Homo sapiens: one gene and its partners. The protein of the gene in region 3 purifies or fractionates together with the protein of the main gene of each other region. This does not show direct contact. Each region holds a gene or a part of one and is shown on either strand. Other genes may lie near its edges.

Region 1 (4,868 bases), on a different chromosome or scaffold from region 3:
ACCTCAGTCCCGGGCTGCCACGCCGCCTGGGGGTCTGTCTGCAGGGCCACTCTCTCCACTCCTCCGCACAGCGTGAGAAGGAAGCTGAGGTCCAGGGAGCCTCTGGGGCTTGCTGGAGGTCCCTGGCCAGCACCTCAGGGACCTGGGTGGGCTTGCGTGCTTCCTGCACCCATTGCAGATTCCTAGTGTGCTTATGGCAGGGAGGAAGCCTGAGGGGCTGCTGCCGCAATGCAAACCTGCCCTGGCCACCTGTCGCCCCCCAGAACAGGGCCTAGCTTCCTCTCCCTGGCACTTAGAGGGCTTTACCACCTAACGAGACTTAGGCTCAGCATTCTCTGCCCCTCATCACAACCTTGAATGATGGTGAGGGTTGATGTGAACTCTTCGCCAAAATCAGTCACATCCACCCCCACTGACACCACCAGCAGTGAGGACACCTGTCGCTCCTTCATGTCACTGCCAGGTCTATCGCCAGAAGAAGGGGCCACCTCTGCCCTCCTGCTAGTTCACACCTCCTGGTTAATAGTTCACACCTCCTGGTTAACCTGGGTCTAAAGAGGGGCCACCCTTCTCCTGCAGTGTCCACACTGTTTCCTATACGCTGGTTGACAGTGTTACACATTTTTACATTTTACAGGTTCCCAAATCAAATTCACAAGTTCATATTTTAAATTAACAGCAGGTCCTCAGAGGTAAAGGTTTGGGTATGAAATTTACTGAATCATTTTTGAACCCTTATCTTATTACACAAGCTTTGAATTTTAGTGCAAAGTATTTTTAGATGTAAATTGAGCTGCTTTTATAATTGAGTGAAAATGACCCATCTTGTACTACTGAAAATAAGCCATCTCTTCTGAGCTAATCTGTTTGAGAAAGCACAGGATTGTTTAAATGGAAAAACAGGGCCTCCGATCTGGAATCAAACCATGTGCAAAATGGGTCACACAGCAATGCCTGGAAACGGCTGCTCACTGTACACCATGTCTCCCCCGTCACAGCTGCCAGCTCCTTCCCAATTGCAGGTGGAGCCAGGACTGGGCTTGCAAATACAGCTCAACTGATTGATTGTGCAAAGTTTCACCAGCCCCCATATGTTGTTTCTGTTTTTATAGAAGAAACCATTTTCGCAGTGATTTAAGACGGTCTCTGCCTTTTTCACGGGGCTGACACTTACACCCCCTGTGCTGGAGTATCAGGCCACAGTCCCAAAGAGGTCCGGGAGCCACTGTATTCGTTTCCGTGCCCTCTGGGAAAATGAACCAATGCCAATTTCACGTTAGAATTTCCTTGCTGAAGCAGTAAAATTAATTTTTAAAACTCTCAACCCTTGGGTACAATACATTTTCCATATTCCGTGTGACTCATAATGTACTCCTGCTGTTGCTGACGGGCAGTGGTCGGTCAGAGCAGAAGCTCAGCTGTGATTGCTGGGGGAGTTCTGAGCTCCATGAGCCACTCTGGCCACGACACCATCTTTACTTGAAAGAAAAACTGACAGACAAATGGCATTTAATTGGATTTAGGTATCTGGCAGATATTTCCCAGAAAAGGAACAAACTGAGCCTCTTACTTCCAGAAACAGCTGACATTATTTATTGCCAATGGTATACATTTGAGCTTTTAAGCAAAAATCAGAATTTTGAAAAACTTTCTCCTATCACCATGACAACTTCCTCATAATGAGTTTTCTGATGAGATGGATGGTGATATTAAGTGATTTTTTGATACTATATAATGTAATGTGTCAAAAATTTGAATTTCTGCAGAACTCTGTGAACCAACATTTTTCAAGTGAACATTCATTTTTCCATGAAAAACCACATGTTCAAAGTGAGAGAGAACAGCGGATTTAACTGCCACAGAGCCCAAAAGTCTATTCATGAGGCTTCAGATTCCATGTTATAACCAGCCTTTAAGAAGCTACCACTTGTTGAGTTTTGGTGTAGTAGCAAAGAATGTTCATAGTTAGTTAGCTGAAAAAGGTACTAAAATCCTTTTCCCTGTTTCAACTATAAAATGCGTGAGGCCAGATTTTCTTGATACAGTTCAACTGAAACAACACATTTCCATAGACTACATCGGAAGCAGACGCAAGGTCCCTAGCTGTCTTCTATTAAGCCAGACACTGACAGGATTTGTGAAAATGTACAACAATGCTACTCTCTCAGTAAATTATTTTTTCATTTTGGAAGATGCTTATCTTCATAAAATTATTTATGATAACATGCAATGGATTTATATGTTATTTTTAATGAATTATACATGTTATAAATTTCTCACTTTTAATTTCCAGTAGAGTAAATATCAATAGACATTGTTATACAAAAAGCCTCTTTGGGGTCGGTACTTGTTAAGAGCGTAAAGGGGTCTCCAGTAATGCATTTGAGGCCTGCTAGTCCAGGCTGGTCTTGAGCTGCCCTTGAAATCTTTGAAAATGGAGCTGTGATTTTTTTTTTCTTGCAAAACTGGGAGCTGGGCTGGCTCCAGCCGGCTTGCTTTTTGAGGAGTGACCATTTCTGCACCATTTGCTCTACAGGCAGCCACTGGGGAGAATGCCTGCTGCGTTGCGTCTGCGTTTCACACCAGGCCGTTGGGGAGAGATTGTGAGCGCCTTCAGGTCAGGATTGGGGTCTTTGCATCAATGGCTGGAGCCTCAGCGCCCACTCCACACAGTAACAGCTCAGGAAAGGCCTGCTGGTTGATCCCAAATCCACGTAGAACGGTTCCAACTGCAGCGGGGAAGATGGGCTGGTTTAAAATAAAAAACCAGGTATTGTTTCACTGGTGCCAGAACACCCAGCTCTTCCTGGTATTATGGGGTCTGCAGACCAGGTGGACCCCGGGAATAGGCAGGGGCTATAGTCGCATTTTCAGAAGGTGATCTGGAGCCATGGAAAATGCCCTACTCTCTGGCAGTTCTACCAGCCACCCTCAGACCACAGCTTCCCTGAAGGCTGTGCAGCTGTGGCCTCTAGGGAAGGCCTGTGTGGTCAGGTTTTTCCTTTGTGTTAATTTCCAGGCCGGGAGCTGACTAACTGCACAGGTCTACCCACAGCCACATGAGATGAAGTCAGGTGCAACGATATTTTCCCTAAGTGACTAGAGTTAGTGCCACAAGCAAACGAATGAATTCCCAGGAAGCTCATCTTCTCACATTGGTCCACAACAAGCCGACATCAAAAACAAGCATCTGATCCAAGGAGAAGAGGGTCCACGACTCTACCAGCCAGAATGTAGCGGCTTCCAGGGTGACCGTGGGTATTGAGGGTGCGTGCGAGGGTGGGAGCAGCCAGTACCAGGTGCAGGCAGTAGGGGGTGCACTATCTGTGGCGAATTTAGGAATCATAACCGACTAGAAGTCAGTTTGCTTATTACCACCGTGTGCCGGTATCTCTGAACAAAGTCAGCAATAACATATTCCTCCTCCGAAAATCTGTTGTTGATTGAAGTTTAAAAAATTGCTGTGGCTACGGTTGCGTTTTAATCACACAAACAAAAGCTTCAAATTCGCATATCGTTGTTACTTATCCTGAAAGTAACATTACATGGACGTTAGCAATGACCCGACACAAAATCTACTACCCACATTCCTTCTGAGAATCGCTCTGACAGTCAGATCCTGTGGGCTGGCTCTGGGCACAGTCGGGGCCTCCAGGGCCCATGATTTCCTACCTCCCGGTGTCGAAACAGAGGACCCAAAATAAAACACGAGAGTGCGGGATGGTCAAAACGAAGACGCGGAACCTGCGTTCCTTCACTTCCCTCATTCCATGTGAACACTTGGAGTTACTGTGTCCAAAATGCTTTTGTTCTGCAGACATCTGAAAGCCACAAGAATCCACCCTGAAGAACTGAACACACAGTGGGTGTTGTGATTGCTGGAATTTACTGTGAAATGGGATTTTTAAGAATCTCTGCCAAATGATACCGTATTAAAGACTTTTCCTAAGTATCTGTGTATCTGTTGCCTCACGAGATTGGAGCTCTTCAAAATCAAAGTTAACAGATAGTATTCTTGGACCAACTATGAGTGAAGACAGCTGGCAACTCTGCCTACTGAACATACATTAGTAAAGAAGATCAATTTAAATGAAACCATTGTCAAACGTGTAGATGCTAAGACCCAAAGCCAGAAACAAACATTCATTCCACCATCTATTACCCCAAGAGACCCATAGGGAGGCATGTTTTTTCTATTAAAAAAAAACAAAAAACCCTTTTTATGATTAGTGTCATTTTCTGCTTAGTTCTAAACAGTTTTGTGGTTTAGAGGAGGGATGGGAACTGCTCATCCTCTCCAGGTATGAAATAAACTAGGCGTGCTAGAGAGCGCGGCGAGCTGCACCAGCGCCACCCTGAACAGCAGCTGACACTAGGGCTCAGTGTCAGGAAGGCAGCAGCAAGTGGTGGGGCCTACCGCAAACCAAACTGGAGAATGGGTGACACCAGGGGCAGGCCCACTGGCTGCAGGGGAATGCTGCCAGGCGGGAACAGAACGCCAGCACTGGCAGACCTTCTGAGTGCACAAAAGGCCGGAAATCCAGGCTTTGATGAGAATCCTTCCTGGTTTCAAATATTGGTAGCTAATTCAAATTTTAAAAATGCCAGGCCTCCGTGAGCCTTGCAGGCTGCTAGTTTGCAGTGTCTGCTGCGGATGCACTCCCTGCTCCTTCCAGACCTCCTGAGGTATGTACTTCCCAGTCTGCTCCCTCCCTGTCCTTCCCAGCCCAGGCCTGAGCACAGAGGCTGCTCACACGGTGTGTAGGATGAATGGATGGAGATGGTGCGGAGGAGGGCAGGGCTTGCTGGGGCGGGCAGACTCGGCCACGACGGGGGCTCCACAAGCACCTGTCCTCCTGGGATGGCAG
Region 2 (5,504 bases), on a different chromosome or scaffold from region 3:
CCAGCCTCAGCCTCCCAAAGCACTGAGATTACAAGTGTGAGTCACCTGCCCTCATCAATTCTCACAGATTTTAAACCCTAGTCTGACACTGTAAGACTAACAAGCCTTTAGACACTGCTTCATTATTCAGCACTTAATAGTTCTGTGCTCATTGTGTAATTGGAAATCAAAGGAAGCAGACAGTGAAAAATTAGGGAAAGACTTCACAAAGGAGGTGATATTCTAGCTGAAAGTTGAAACTTAGGCAACACATAGACTGACAGTAAATGAGATTTAACAGATATAAAGGAATCTGATGGGAGTACGGGTATAAGGACAGGCATGAGAAAACCTGCTGAGAAGGGAATTAACAGGAATGACTTGGGCAACTGTAAAGATCTATGACATTAATGATGGAGAATGAGATACAATCTTGGCTAAGGAAGGTGTAGTCTCATTACAGAATGTCTTAGAAGTCAGACAGAGGTATTTAAATTTGATTTTATACATACCACTTAATAACAAAGGGAAGAGACTGCATAAGATTATTCTGGCATCTATATTCAGCCATACAGAATAGACAGGCAATCAGAGATATTTGGAAAGAAACTGCAAGCTTAAAAAGAGACTGCAGGAAAAGAGAAGAAATCATCAAAGAATATAAGGTTTCTACCCTGGGAACTATAAAAATGGAGATGCCACGAAATAAACAGGGAAGCTGAGAAATAAAGGATCGAGAATGGGCAGGGGATATTTTTGGACATGCTAGATTTAAGCATATCCAAGTTGAGCTATCCTAATACTATTCTATTGCATAATATCAGGTTGAAGCCAAGGTCCAGGGTGGGAATACATGGAGTGATTCATATCAATGCCTTATATTTATTTAGGGCTTTATCACAAAAAATTCATGTATTATTAATTTTGAGTCTCAAAACCTAGAAAGGTAGAAGAACAGAAATTACCACTTTCATCTCACCAATAAATAAATTAATGCTCAGAATTGGGGCCATGCCCGGTGGCTTATGCTTGTAATCCCAGTACTTTCAGAGGCCAAAGAGGGAGGGTTGCTTGAGTCCAGGAGTTCAATATCAACCTGGGCAACATAGTGAGACCCAGTTTCTACAAAAAAAAAAAAAAAAAAAATTAGCGGGGCATAGTGATGTATGCCTGCAGTCCCAGCTACTTGGGAGGCTGAGGCAGGAGAACTGCTTGAGCCCAGGAAGTTGAGGCAGCACTGAGCCATGATCATGCCACAACACTCAGCTTGGGCAACAGAGTAAGACCCTGTCTCAGAAAAAGAGAAAAGGAAAAAAAAAAAAAAAAAAAAAGAAATGAATGCTCAGAATTAATGTAACTTGCCCCAAGTCAGCTTGTTAGCAGCAGAGCCAGGAGAATTCTGGCTCTAGATCTACCCGTCATCAAATGCTGAAAGCTTCCAAGAAGAAGAAAGCTCAAGGCTTTTCCTCCAAAAGTAGTCATTAGCACAGAGGCAACAGTTGAGGCCATGAGACTGTGTAACTAATTCTTTGAAGGAGAACAGAAAAAGAATTCCTAGCAGATACCCATAATTAATTAAAAAGTGAAAGGAAGAGAGCCTAGTAAGAGACACCAAGTTGACAAGAATATGCAACAGGGGAGGGGGAAAAAAAAATCAAAACCAGAAAAGTGCAGAGTCAGGAAAGCCAAAAATGGAGTAGGTACTCAGTGATTTTAAATGCCAAAGTTGGAAAAAGGCGCGGATTTGGCATGAAGATATCACATTGTATGTGTGAAATTTTTTTCAAAAATTTAATTCTTAAAACATTAGCGAAATTTAAAAATTCCTTTGAAATGTTTATGACTAGCAACATCCATTTGGTACATTAATAAGGGGGACTGGATTTTTCATATATTACACTTCTTCAATGTTGAAAAATTACAAAGGCTAAGAAAATAAAACATCTATTAACTAGCCTTGTAGAAAAGTAATTTGATCTTTTAAATACAGATCAACTATATATAGTTCAACATAACCAGATGAGTTATTGCACTTTTTATTTGCTAAGAAAATATTTTCAGCTTTTACCTACTCCACATTTGAGAAGTTTTTGATATACATAAACAATAGTTTACTATACTTTTTGCTGCAATCTATTTTGTCAATTCAAAGGTTCAACAAAGGAAAAGAGACAGTTATACAAAGGCAAAACTACATGCATACCCAAAGCAAAATTACATATGAAGTAATTTACCAAGTTTTAATAGTAAATGTTATTAGAAATAATATGGGCAATCTTCTGATCATATATTTAACTTCAATCTTAAGTGGGAATTAGTACGCAGAGAAAAGAGAACTATTTTATCCTTATCCTAACACGAGGGATATAAAATATTTTTAATTCAAATCAACATTAATTAGTGATATATGGAGAACACAGCACCATCTTTGCACAAATCAAGTTTTAGACCCTTGGAAATAATATTTATCTTAGAGCTTTAAAACATTTAACAGGACTGCCAATGAATTAAAAGTTTAAAAGACGCAAATGAGCAAATCAAAACAACTTGCTACTGACCTTGTTCAAGTCTGAAGAGGGTCTTTTCCAGTTTCTCCATTTCGTTCAGAAGTAAAATTCGAATCTGTTTACTGTGTCCCATTTTGGCTTCTAGAGGATTTGAAATCTTTCATAAGAATTAAAAGAACTCCACAGTCGAATGAGTTACCCCTATGAAACAAAAAGGAGTTAAAATATCGAAAATAACTATTGCCTTAAACTCTCCAGAGCTGACAGCGGCACTTACATGTTCGAAGTGTGTTTTATGCCTAGCAGAGCAATGAAAGAGAATGAATCTTATAACTATTAAGATTCGAGAAGGCAAATTAATAGTTGTTTCCTGCCTTTGAGCACAACGAATAAGACCGAAATAAAAATGCTGTATTACAGATTCTTACAATTAAAAAATTAAAAACCTAGACCATTCTCAGAGAAAAGCAATACACTTAGGAAAGCCTGAAGTCAGGGGGACATTCCCAGCCCCAAGCCACAGGGCTCTGGAGACTCCGAATGGCACTTCTGCTTACAAGAGATTAGTCTGCTCAAAGATAACAGGTGGGCAATCTCCCCATTCCCAAATTCGGGTCGCCAGCCACCAATGGGGAGATGAGAACAGAGGGAAGCAGTTGTTGCCTCTGGAATAGCTGCCGTAGACAGAAGATGTACAGAGCGAGCTATAGATAGAAAGAATGCGTTTCCCCGCGAGGCCAGCGGCATTCCTAGCACTTACGCCGAGGGAGTTATACGTGCGGCTTCTGGGGCACTGCAGGACCCGCGACTCTGGTGCTACGGTCGGGGGGAGGGGACGGGGAGAAACAGAAGGGGAAGGGCTGGCTGCCCAGCCTCGCACAGAAGCCGCAGCCCAAGGAGGGCCGGGCGCCGTGAAGGGCAAAGGGAGGGGCGGCGAGCGACCGGGGCAGCGCCGAGGCAGCTGGGTGAGAAGCAGGCAGAGTCTCAGCGACTTCGCCTCGCGCGGGTTCCTGGGCGCACCCGGTACCCAACCTGGCCGTGCGCGCACTCGCCCCAGGTGGGAGCGGACCGTACCTCTGGCCCACTTCCGGGAGGCTCGACCCGCCCGCCCCGACCGCTAGTCTCGCGAGAGCGTGGGCACCGCACCGTCTCAGTCGGCTCCGGGCCGGGGGACCTGGAGCCTGCTGCGGCTGAGGCCGGGAGCGGCGCTTTCTCCTTGCCCTGGGGAAGGTGCACCGGCCAAGGCGCGGCCTTCCTTTAACAGCCTGCGAGCTCACAGTTGCACATTAAAATCCCGCGGTACCGGCTGCGAGCTAGGTTGAGCTGCACAGTAGGATCTTTTGCTGGGAAGGGCTGAATGGTGAGGGGCAAACGACCTGGCTTCTGGTGTCTTTTGTGCCACCACGTGTTTTGTTTCTTTGTTTTGATAATTTTTACTTGGCCTAAGTTCTCAGAGTCCTGATTTCTAAGTGTCTAAAATAAGGGGCCTGGCTACAGCCTTGACATTCCAGCCAACACGTGTCCATCACTTCTAGTGCTAACAGACAGGACACATGTTCCTGAATGCAGACCCAGTAGGTAAGGTGTGGCCAGTCTGCAAACCATCGAGAGTGCAAACACCACTGATACTTAACGGTGTCCGGGTGTACCTCATGTACACTAGATAGACCCGGAGATCGTCTGAGATTAAGCTGCACTTATGTTAGGCCAGTAACTCAGAACTTTTTGCAGATGCTTAAGGAGATTTAATGCCTGAGGGTAAAGGAAAACCCATCTTCCAGGGCTTTTGGAGGGCTCCTAATGGTTATGAGAAAATGGACAGAAGATTTGGTTAACTAAGACTTGTGGCGTGTGGAGAAGATTCTTGCATTCTTTATTGTGGAATGACTGTAGGTCCAAAGAGGATATAAGTTAAAAAAAAAAACCCCATACTGAAGTATTTGTTTATTTCTGTAGATTTCTGAGAATGGCTAGTTGCAAATGGTCCGTAACTGACTTTGGGAACCCACAGCTCATTTTCTGGCCCCTACTATTTGCCAGGCACATAAGGTGCTGGGAATGCAGCAATAAAACAGTCACTGCCCTCAAGGAACTCCTACATTTTATTGGTGGGAGACAGATAAATTAAATAAATTATACAGGATATAATATATCCTATATAATAAGAAGGATATGTTATATCCTATATATAATAGGAAGGGGGAAGTGTGGAAGAGTAAGCAGAGAGAGGTTTGCATTTCTAAATATAACGTTCAGTAAAGTGATGCCAAACTGCGAGAAAGAAGAAGTCTAAGGTAGAGGGTTACATGTAGAGGTATAGGAAGTACAAAGGCCATGAGGCAGGAGCATACTTGGTGAACCGAAGAAGATCACCATAGCTGAGTGAAGAAGAGAGTGGTAAGAGATTAGGACAGACAGATGGGGCAGGAGAAGGGATCAGGAGCACAGACGGGTGACCAGATCTTTTAAGGCTTTGTAGGCCATTGCAAGGACTTGGGCTTTTAAACTTTGGAAAAAAAGCCATGGAGATTTTGAACAGAGGAGTGACATAATCTGATTGACCTTTTAAAAGGATCGCTCCGCAACTTTATGGGAAATAGTTGAATAAACTGTAGAGTGTAGCAAGGAAGGAAGCAAGGAGACCAGTTAGAAAGCTATTTTAGTTATTCAAGCAAGAGAAAGTGACTTGTGTGTGTTTTCTCTGTGTCGGGGGGTTGGGGGTGATGGGGGGGAGGTGGTATAGCAGGTGGTGTAGTTGCTGAATTCTGGACTATTTTGAAGATAGAACCTACAGGATTGGTGGAGAAAGGAGTCAAGGATGACTCCAAGGTTTTTGGCCTGAATGAGCAGAAAGCACTGTCCAATAGAAATATTAAGTGCCACATAGGTCATTTAAAATTTTCAAGTAGCCACATTAAAAAAACTTTTTTAAATACAAAAATTAGCCAGGCATGGTGGCACATGCCTGTAGTCCCAACTACTGTGGAGGCTGAGGCAGGAGAATCGCTTCAACCTGGG
Region 3 (3,613 bases):
AGAACCTAGTACGTGCCAGGTACTGTTATGGCTGAGAGGGCCCAAGCCCAGCAGCCCTCAGGTTCAGGCTGTTCCTACGGCCCAGCCTGACTGCCGGACCTGGAGGAGGGGCAGCCATCCCTGGGCTTCATATGTGCAGTGAGTGTGAGTAGGCAGGCATATGTGCTACAGGTGACCTTCGCATTGGGCAATCCTAGTCAAATGCTTGTTAAGCAACAATCCGTAGTAACCCTGATCAAGGACACAACATAGCTATTTACAGGAGAGGAGCTCTGAGGAGAAATGTTTCTTGCCCACTGGCCTCAGTCCAGGCACATTCACACACATTACCTGCAACTGCAGCAGGCTGCAAGGGGGCTGGGGGTTTCAGCCCCATTTATCAATGTGGAAGTTGCCTCCCAAAGGCCCGGGCAGATCACACAGCTATAGTTAAGTGGAAGGACTCGGCTACAGAACGTGGAGCGGGGACTTTGGCTGAGTTGAGGTCTCTGGCTCAGGAGGGTCAAGGCAGACCTCTATCGGGAGTCCCCTTTCCTAAACCGGCCAAACACAAACTCTTCCTCAAGTGCTACCTTGACCTCAGGGTTGCAACGGGGAGCTATTAAACGCAGGACAGGGGTGCCATAGGTAAACCCCAACGCTGGGGCGCCAGAAGTGAGGGGGACCAGACAGCCCAGGCAGGGGGTCGCGGGCTTTATACTTTCCCAGGGCTCTGCCTGTGGGAGCCGTGTGCTGCTGCAAGGGATTCTGGGAAGTGTAGGCTTGGCGCTCTCAGTGCATTCTGGGAGATGCAGTCTCCAAGGCACACAGACCTTGCCAGTTGACATGTGTTGCAGTTCAGTTTACCGAGATAATTTAATCACAACCTCAAACTCAGGAAAGGGCACCCCAGCAGACTGTAACAGGGACAACCCTGGAGCTGAGCCTGAGAATCCTGTGCTGTGGATCCAGCTTCCTGTCATGCTGCCAGCAGTGCAGGCACAGGGTCCACAGCTGCCAGTTAGAGATCCTGGCTCTGCCTGACCCCATCATGCTCCTTCTTCTCTGTCTTTTCCATCCTGTGACCTAGGAGCCTGCCAGATGTGTCTGCTACAGACTTTGAGAAGGTTGATCTGACCCAGTTCAAGTGGATCCACATTGAGGTAAGCCCTGCCTTACCTGTGTTTCAAGGGGCTCAACCTGCCAGCCTCCTCCACATGTTCTGCCTCCTTGGTTTCTTTGAATCATGAAGTACCTTAGAGATAAATGAACCCAACCCCCTCATTCTCTCTCCATCTTTCCTTATGTCTTCAGGTGAGAAAACTAAGGCCCAGAAAGATTAGATGACTTACTCAAGGTCACACAGCAGAACGTAAGCACAGCTGGCTCCAGGCAAAGTCCTGTGCTTTCTGTGCTACGGGCTGCCCCATTGCCTCCAACTCTGCCTCTGGCGGATGTCTGACTGCTTAGGGCCTGACCCATTACCTCTGGGGAAGCAGGAAGGACAGGGCCTGACTCAGCTCCCAAATAAAGGGAACTAGAGCCTTTACTCCAAGAGAGGTTTTGGAGTCTGGGTGGAAGGAAATCCTGAGAAGTCCTGAGTTCTAGCTCCATCATTTAACCTATGGTAGGTCTTTCACAGTATCTTTTATTCTTTAGTCTTCTCATCTGTGGAATGGAGTAGCTGGTTGATAAGGTCTTCAAAGTCCACGACAGCTCTGAATGTTGTAATTTAGGATGGGGTTCTAGCCCAGCCTCCCCGAGGCCCTCTCCCTCCTCACCCAGAGTTTCAGCGGGGCAGGAAGAATGAGGCAGATTGGCCAGGCAGTGCCCAGCGGTCCTGAGCTGCCCTGTCCTGTACCAGGGCCGGAACGCATCGGAGCAGGTGAAGATGCTGCAGCGGATAGACGCACACAACACCAGGCAGCCTCCAGAGCAGAAGATCCGGGTGTCCGTGGAGGTGGAGAAGCCACGAGAGGAGCTCTTCCAGCTGTTTGGCTACGGAGACGTGGTGGGTGCCCCATTCAGCCTCTCTTTGCCACTTCCAGCTAATTTGGTTCTTAAAGGGAGCCAGAATCCTTTTATCCTGCCTACCACAATTGGAATAGTGGTTCCTGGTTTGGTGGTGTTTGAAGATGGGGGATGGGGGTTAAAGCAAAGAAGTAGACCCCTAGCCTTGGGCTCCAGTGCAGGCCTCAGCAGTGAGCAAGGAGTAGAATGTCTCCACCCCAGGTGGGTGCATAGGTGTAAGAATGCCCAGAGGGCTTGGGTAGGGCTTAAACAGCCACAGGGCAAGCCTGTGTGGAAGCATCTCCTCTCTGGGGCTCCCCAGTCTTTTCCTCTGCAGAATGAGGGCACACAACTGTTCTCTGAGGTTTCTTCCAACTCAGGGGTGTCTGGCAGGTTGTGGGGGCTGCTAGGGTGAGGGAAGGGTGGGAAGGAGACTTGCATGAGTCTCTTTTTGAAAAGGCTGGATGTAAATGGAATTTGGGAAGTAATCCCAGCATCATAGCAGAAGTTGGTTGGAGACCATCCAGCCAAGGTCCTCAACCTTGTGACTTGTCCTCAACCTTGGCTGCATATTAAAAAAGATGAATGCAGGCCAAGTGTAGTGGCTCACACTTGTAATCCCAGAGCTTTGGGAAGCTGAGGTAGGAGGATTGCTTGATGCCAGGAGTCCAAGACCAGCCTGGACAACATAGCAAGACCCCTGTCTCTATGAAAATAAATTAGGCCAAGAGCAGTGACTCATACCTGTAATCCCAGCACCTTGGGAGGCCAATGCAGGAGGATCACTTCAGCCAGTCATTCAAGATTGCAAGACCCTGTCTCTATACAAAAAAAAAAAAAAAAAATTCCTGGCATGGTGGTGTGCACCCATAGTCCCAGCTACTCAGGAGGCTGAGGCAGGAGGATTGCAGTGCCTGAGCCCCACCATCTTGTTTTTGATTGGCAGGGGTAGAGCCAAGGCTTCGGTGTTTTGTTTTTTGTTTTTACCAAAACTTTCTCTGGAGATTCTAAAGTGTAGGTAGTGTTGAGGGAGCCTCTTTGTTTTCCAGATGAAGAAACCATACCTAGAGGACATAGTTGTGGGAAAAACCAGCAAAACTGCTCCAGGGAGCCAGCATGGCGGTGGTAGATTCCACCCCAAGGTGGCGCTCAAGGCTTTCTGTGGGTTTTCAATCCATTGATCAGAGAACAAACGGACCAGGCCTTTTGTTTTACAATTTACAAGGCTGTATTCTATTATATATAAGCATCGATAAAAATATGCTTCTGGCCAGGTGCAGTGACTCACACCTGTAATCCCAGAAATTTTGGGAGGCTGAGGCAGGAAGATCATATGGGGCCAGGAGTTCAAGACCAGCCTCAGGGAGACCATCTTCACAAAAAATAAAGAAAAAAGAAAACCACGTTCCCGTGGGACAGTGAGATGCTACGTTGGGGATCTATGTGGACATGTTGGGGGAGTCGTGTTGTAATGGGGGCAACGCTAGGCTGCTGTTGGTGAATGACGAGTTAGAAGTGACCACCAGCTTCTCTTCCACTGCCCACAGGTGTTTGTCAGCAAAGATGTGGCCAAGCACTTGGGGTTCCAGTCAGCAGAGGAAGCCTTGAGGGGCTTGTATGGTCG
Region 4 (4,868 bases), about 81 Mb from region 3:
TCCCATCACTTTGGGAGGCCAAGACAGGGGGATCTTTTGAGGCTAGAAGATTGAGACCAGCCTGGGCAACATAGGGAGACTCCTATGTACAAAAAAAAAATAAAAATTAGCCAGGCATGGTGGTGTGCACTCACAGTCCTAGCTATTTGGGAGGTTGAAGCAAGAGGACCATTGAGCCCAGGAGTTGGAGGCTGCACTGAGCTAGGATCCCACCACTGTACTCCAGCCTGGGCAACAGAGCAAGACCCTGTCTCTGGAAAAATAAAAAATAAAAAAAGCCATCCTAAAATAACTCAACATCCTCCTAACCTGGATTTTGCCAGAACATCTGGTGCAACAGATCTTCATCAAAGGGTGAAGATTATGTTGATAGCACAATATCACTGTATCAGTCAGGATCAGTGCAAGACACAGACAGACTGAAGCTGGGGGATACCATTCTACCTATGGCCACAGTGGCAGTGGTTGGGTCTAGGGCACTGGGCCATGGAACGTGGAATGGTCTCTGCAAAATTTCTATCTGCTGGGGCTACTATCAGCAGCCACCACCTCAGGAAGGATGACTTCTATCTCCCCACTGCCTTCCAAAACTCAGGCTAATGCATCTCACTGGAGGGATCTAAATAGCCTTCAGAATCTTAGTGGCAAAGGAGTTTAGGGAAGGCCTTTTACAGCCTTTCAGCCCATGAGATATGGGGGAAACAGAGAAAGGCGAAAAATTGAATACTAAGTGCTAATGGTCAATATCAAGTTCAAGCCCTAATGGTTCACTCATTCAGCCAACAAATACTAAGTGTCTCCTACGCTATGCAACTGGGAAAAAGAGAGTTTGAAAATCATGTAGTCATTTCTCTATAGCAGATCACAATTTGGGGAGAATGTCCTTTCTAAGGACAATACAGCTAAATAAATAGAACAATAATAACAATCCAAATTAATAGTTGTGACAGAAAAAAATAAATGTATATTTATCAGTCTAATGTCCATTCAAAATTGGAGTATTTTTTTAAAATCATATTATGATAATAAGATATAAATAAGGAATGCTATCTTCTGAATCCCATTTAAAACCTAGCTTTTAAATTCACATAGATGGTCCAGGCATGGTGGCTCACACCTATAATCCCAGCATTTTAGGAGGCCGAGGCGAGCAGATCACTTGCAAGCAGATCACTTGAGCTCAGGAGTTCCAGATCAGCCTGGGCAACATGGTAAAATGCCGTCTCTACAAAAAGTATAAAAATTAGCCAGGGGTGATTGTGTATGCATGTAACCCCTGCTACTCAGGAGGCTGAGGCGAGAGGATCGCTTGAACCCAGGAGGCAGTGAGCCAAGATTGCACCATTGAACTCCAGCCTTGATACAGAGCAAGACCCTGTCTCAAAAAACAAAACAAAACAAAACAAAACAAAAGACATAGATGTTCTAACAAGTATTTGATCATATTTTAAGGAATGTACTATACTAGATGTCTATTCATCTTCATTTTACGTGCACGTAAGGAACAACATGGACTCAGGAGATAGTGGAATTAATACAAAATGAAGGTGATGTGGAGAAAAGTAAACGGGCACCGACTCATCAACGATTTCCTTTCCTCGAAATGAAAATCCCATCCTTAGGATCTGGTGAGTATAAATAGCCACACTTCACTACAGTCCTAAAATGCACTTAGGATTTTTACTGTCTTTGCACCTTTCGAAATTATAGGCTTTCAAACAATTATTGGTAAGTTTCATGGTTTTGTCTTTTTTTAACTGTGTCTGGCCATTGTTATACTCCAGACATTTTCTAATGGAATTACTGTTTGTACAAAAGTGAGTTAAATTTTGTTTCTCTAGTTAGAAATTAATTTTACTTCAAAAGAATAAGCTCAAGTAAGATAATCCTGGTGAAAGGGTTTGAATTTTTTAGGTTCTTATTTATTTGGATGACTGTTATGGTTAGGAATTGTTCTAGTCAAAACATCTATTCATAGGCTAGACGTATTCTCTCACACCAGATCTACAGTTACAATGTTCTTATAGATGCTTTGAATTGTAGTAGTAATAATGGAAGCAGCAAGACTTGGAAGCAAATAGATAAAAAAAAAATCGTAGAAATTGATCGAAAACCAGTTTTGCAGGTTTGGAACAAGCTCATGCAATGCCCTCACCACGGATCCTGAAAACACATCTTCCCTTTCACTTGCTGCCACCATCCTTGCTAGAGAAAAACTGTAAGGTAAAAAAGCAAAAGGAATTCAGAGTTGTACTCCTTAAAACAACCTTAGTCTTCCATTTCCTCTTAAAACACTTCACTTGTTAAATATATATATATATACCTCTTCACAATAATCAATATGCAAATTAATATGAATCCTAGCCAGGCACGTTGGCTCATGCCTGTAATCACAGCATTTTGGGAGACTGAGATGGGTGGATCAGTTGAGGTCAGGGGTTCAAGACCAGCCTGACCAACACGGCGAAACCCCATCTCTACCAAAAACACAAAATTCACAGGACGTGGTGACACATGCCTGTAATCCAAGCTACTCAGGAGGCTGAGGCAGGAGACTCGCTTGAACACAGGAGGCAGAGGTTGCAGTGAGCCAAGATAGTGCCATTGCACTCCAGCCTGGGTGACAGAGCAAGACTCCATCTCAAAAAAAAAAAAAAAAAAAAAAAAAAAAAGTCTCCCATAACCAGGATGACAAGAATGCAGCCTCAGAAAAAATGAACTGTATGAAATGTATCTACCCTAACATGACTTGCCTGGGCAGTAACAGCAAAAAAAAAAAAAAAAAATTCCTGTTTTTTTGCTTCTTCCCTTCCCCTCCCCTCATCATTCCCAGATAATCTATGTAGCAAGAAATCCCAAGGACAACATGGTGTCCTATTACCATTTCCAAAGAATGAATAAAGCTCTTCCTGCTCCAGGAACATGGGAAGAGTATTTTGAGACTTTTCTGGCTGGGAAAGGTGAGAGAATTTAGCTTTGTTTCCCTTCGTTTCTCAAAATCTCCAAACACCCTAGAAGGAAAGAATCTTTTCTTTTGACCAGCAGGGGCTCTGCCTTCTTTAATGGAACATTCTCACTTCTCTTCAGGAATTCTCCTTTCAGTGGTATAATAGGACCTCTGTGACTCATTGTCCTGTTTTCCATCCCATCCTCCAGTGTGCTGGGGCTCCTGGCATGAACATGTGAAAGGATGGTGGGAAGCCAAAGACAAACACCGTATTCTCTATCTCTTCTATGAGGACATGAAGAAGGTGAGCACAGTGCCATCTAAGGTGTACCCACTGGACCATAAAACATTTAAGTCATAATGCATTGACCCCATCAGGGACTCAGATTGATGCGGGGAACCGAAAATTGCTGCACTTCATTGGTTACAGCTGTCATTTGTCAAAGTGCACATGGCTGATCATGAGTTTAAGTATCACACAGTCTCACCTGCAGCTTCCTGGTGCTCCCAGGGATGCTGCACATTTCCCTTACAGGCAGGTTATTACACAATATGGATGGTGTCATTTTCTCCCTTGCATGTCTATTTTAAAATGCAGTTTAGCAGGAAAAAAAATCCTAGCACATTTTGGTTTCTTTGGTTTTTGGGTTTTTTTTGTTTTTGTTTTTGTTTTTGAGACAGAGGAGGAGTTTCACTCTGTCGCCCAGACTAGAGTGCAATGGTGCGATCTCAAGTCACTGCAAGCTCCGCCTCCCGGGTTCAAGAGATTCTCCTGCCTCAGCCTCCGGAGTAGTTGGGATTACAGTCGCCTGCCACCATGCCAGCTAATTATTTGTATTTTTAGTAGAAACCGGGTTTCACCATGTTGGCCAGGCTGGTTTTGAACTCCTGATCCCAAGTGTTCCACCCTCCTCAGCCTGCTAAAATGCTAGGATTACAGGCATGAGCTACCATGCCCAGAGTTTTTGTTTTTTTATTAGCACTGAGGAACATAATACTTTATTTATTTATTTATTTATTTATTTATTTTATTTATTTTTTGAGACGGAGTCTCACTCTGTCACCCAGGCTGGAGTGCAGTGGCGCGATCTCTGGCTCACTGCAAGCTCCGCCTCCCGGGTTCACACCATTCGCCTGCCTCAGCCTCCCACGTAGCTGGGACTATAGGCACCCGCCAGCACGCCCGGCTAATTTTTTGTATTTTTTACTAGAGACGGGGTTTCACCGTGTTAGCCAGGTCTCAATCTCCTGACCTCGTGATCTGCCCGCCTCGGCCTCCCAAAGTGCTGGGATTACAGGCGTGAGCCACCACGCCCAGCCAATAGCTTTAAGAAACTTTAAGAAGTGGTGCAATGGAAAATACTAATGATTTAGATTCAAAATTATTGAAATCAAGTTCTGTCAATTCTTGGTAAAGACACTTAACATCTTGGGAAATTAGTTTTCTTAAATGTAAAAATGAAGATAATAATATTTACCCATTCAAGATTTATTTGAGGACTAAATGAGATAATATCAGTGGATGTTTATTGTAAATAATCATCTACTCAGCTATTTTCTGTGACCCCACTAAATACAGAGATCTATACAGAATTACAGTGTCTGTTCTTGAATTGGTCGTTGAAAGCCTTGATACTCAACAGGTGCTTCACAGACTAGTTGCATGAGCTACTGGAGCCTGCTGTAGGCCTGCTAAGTCTGGAGTTTTATAAAATTCCCAGGAGATTCAAGCACACATCACCATTTAGATGCACTTCTCTAAGGTTCAATCACTGCTGGGCCTTGTGATATGAGTGAGTTCTACAAAATATCAAAGGAGTGGAAAACACAGACTATTTTCATGTGGTTTTTAAAATAATTGTTATAGCTCTAGGATTCTCAGAAGCATGATCAAAGAACCAGCAGAACAACCTATGAGGTT

What was found.
Region 1: the proteins of KHK (region 3) and NPEPL1 fractionate together in Homo sapiens (co-fractionation; one large-scale study listed by BioGRID). This does not show direct contact.
Region 2: the proteins of KHK (region 3) and AGL fractionate together in Homo sapiens (co-fractionation; one large-scale study listed by BioGRID). This does not show direct contact.
Region 4: the proteins of KHK (region 3) and SULT1C4 fractionate together in Homo sapiens (co-fractionation; one large-scale study listed by BioGRID). This does not show direct contact.

What each region holds. Positions count from the first base shown.
Region 1 is NC_000020.11:58,701,876-58,706,743, reverse strand, and holds part of NPEPL1 (probable aminopeptidase NPEPL1), read right to left. Parts: intron 1,247-4,868; exon of another isoform or gene 1,175-1,246; intron 1-1,174. UniProt on the Homo sapiens protein: Probably catalyzes the removal of unsubstituted N-terminal amino acids from various peptides.
Region 2 is NC_000001.11:99,848,158-99,853,661, reverse strand, and holds the start of AGL (glycogen debranching enzyme), read right to left. Parts: upstream 3,302-5,504; 5' UTR 3,247-3,301; exon of another isoform or gene 3,044-3,246; intron 3,042-3,043; exon of another isoform or gene 2,764-3,041; intron 2,688-2,763; 5' UTR 2,620-2,687; coding exon 2,538-2,619; intron 1,102-2,537; exon of another isoform or gene 993-1,101; coding exon of another isoform or gene 959-992; intron 1-958. UniProt on the Homo sapiens protein: Multifunctional enzyme acting as 1,4-alpha-D-glucan:1,4-alpha-D-glucan 4-alpha-D-glycosyltransferase and amylo-1,6-glucosidase in glycogen degradation.
Region 3 is NC_000002.12:27,095,660-27,099,272, forward strand, and holds part of KHK (ketohexokinase), read left to right. Parts: intron 1-1,069; coding exon 1,070-1,142; intron 1,143-1,843; coding exon 1,844-1,990; coding exon of another isoform or gene 1,991-2,404; exon of another isoform or gene 2,405-2,419; intron 2,420-3,536; coding exon 3,537-3,613. UniProt on the Homo sapiens protein: Catalyzes the phosphorylation of the ketose sugar fructose to fructose-1-phosphate.
Region 4 is NC_000002.12:108,380,260-108,385,127, forward strand, and holds part of SULT1C4 (sulfotransferase 1C4), read left to right. Parts: intron 1-1,452; exon of another isoform or gene 1,453-1,502; coding exon 1,503-1,628; intron 1,629-2,125; coding exon 2,126-2,223; intron 2,224-2,833; coding exon 2,834-2,960; intron 2,961-3,156; coding exon 3,157-3,251; intron 3,252-4,868. UniProt on the Homo sapiens protein: Sulfotransferase that utilizes 3'-phospho-5'-adenylyl sulfate (PAPS) as sulfonate donor to catalyze the sulfate conjugation of phenolic compounds.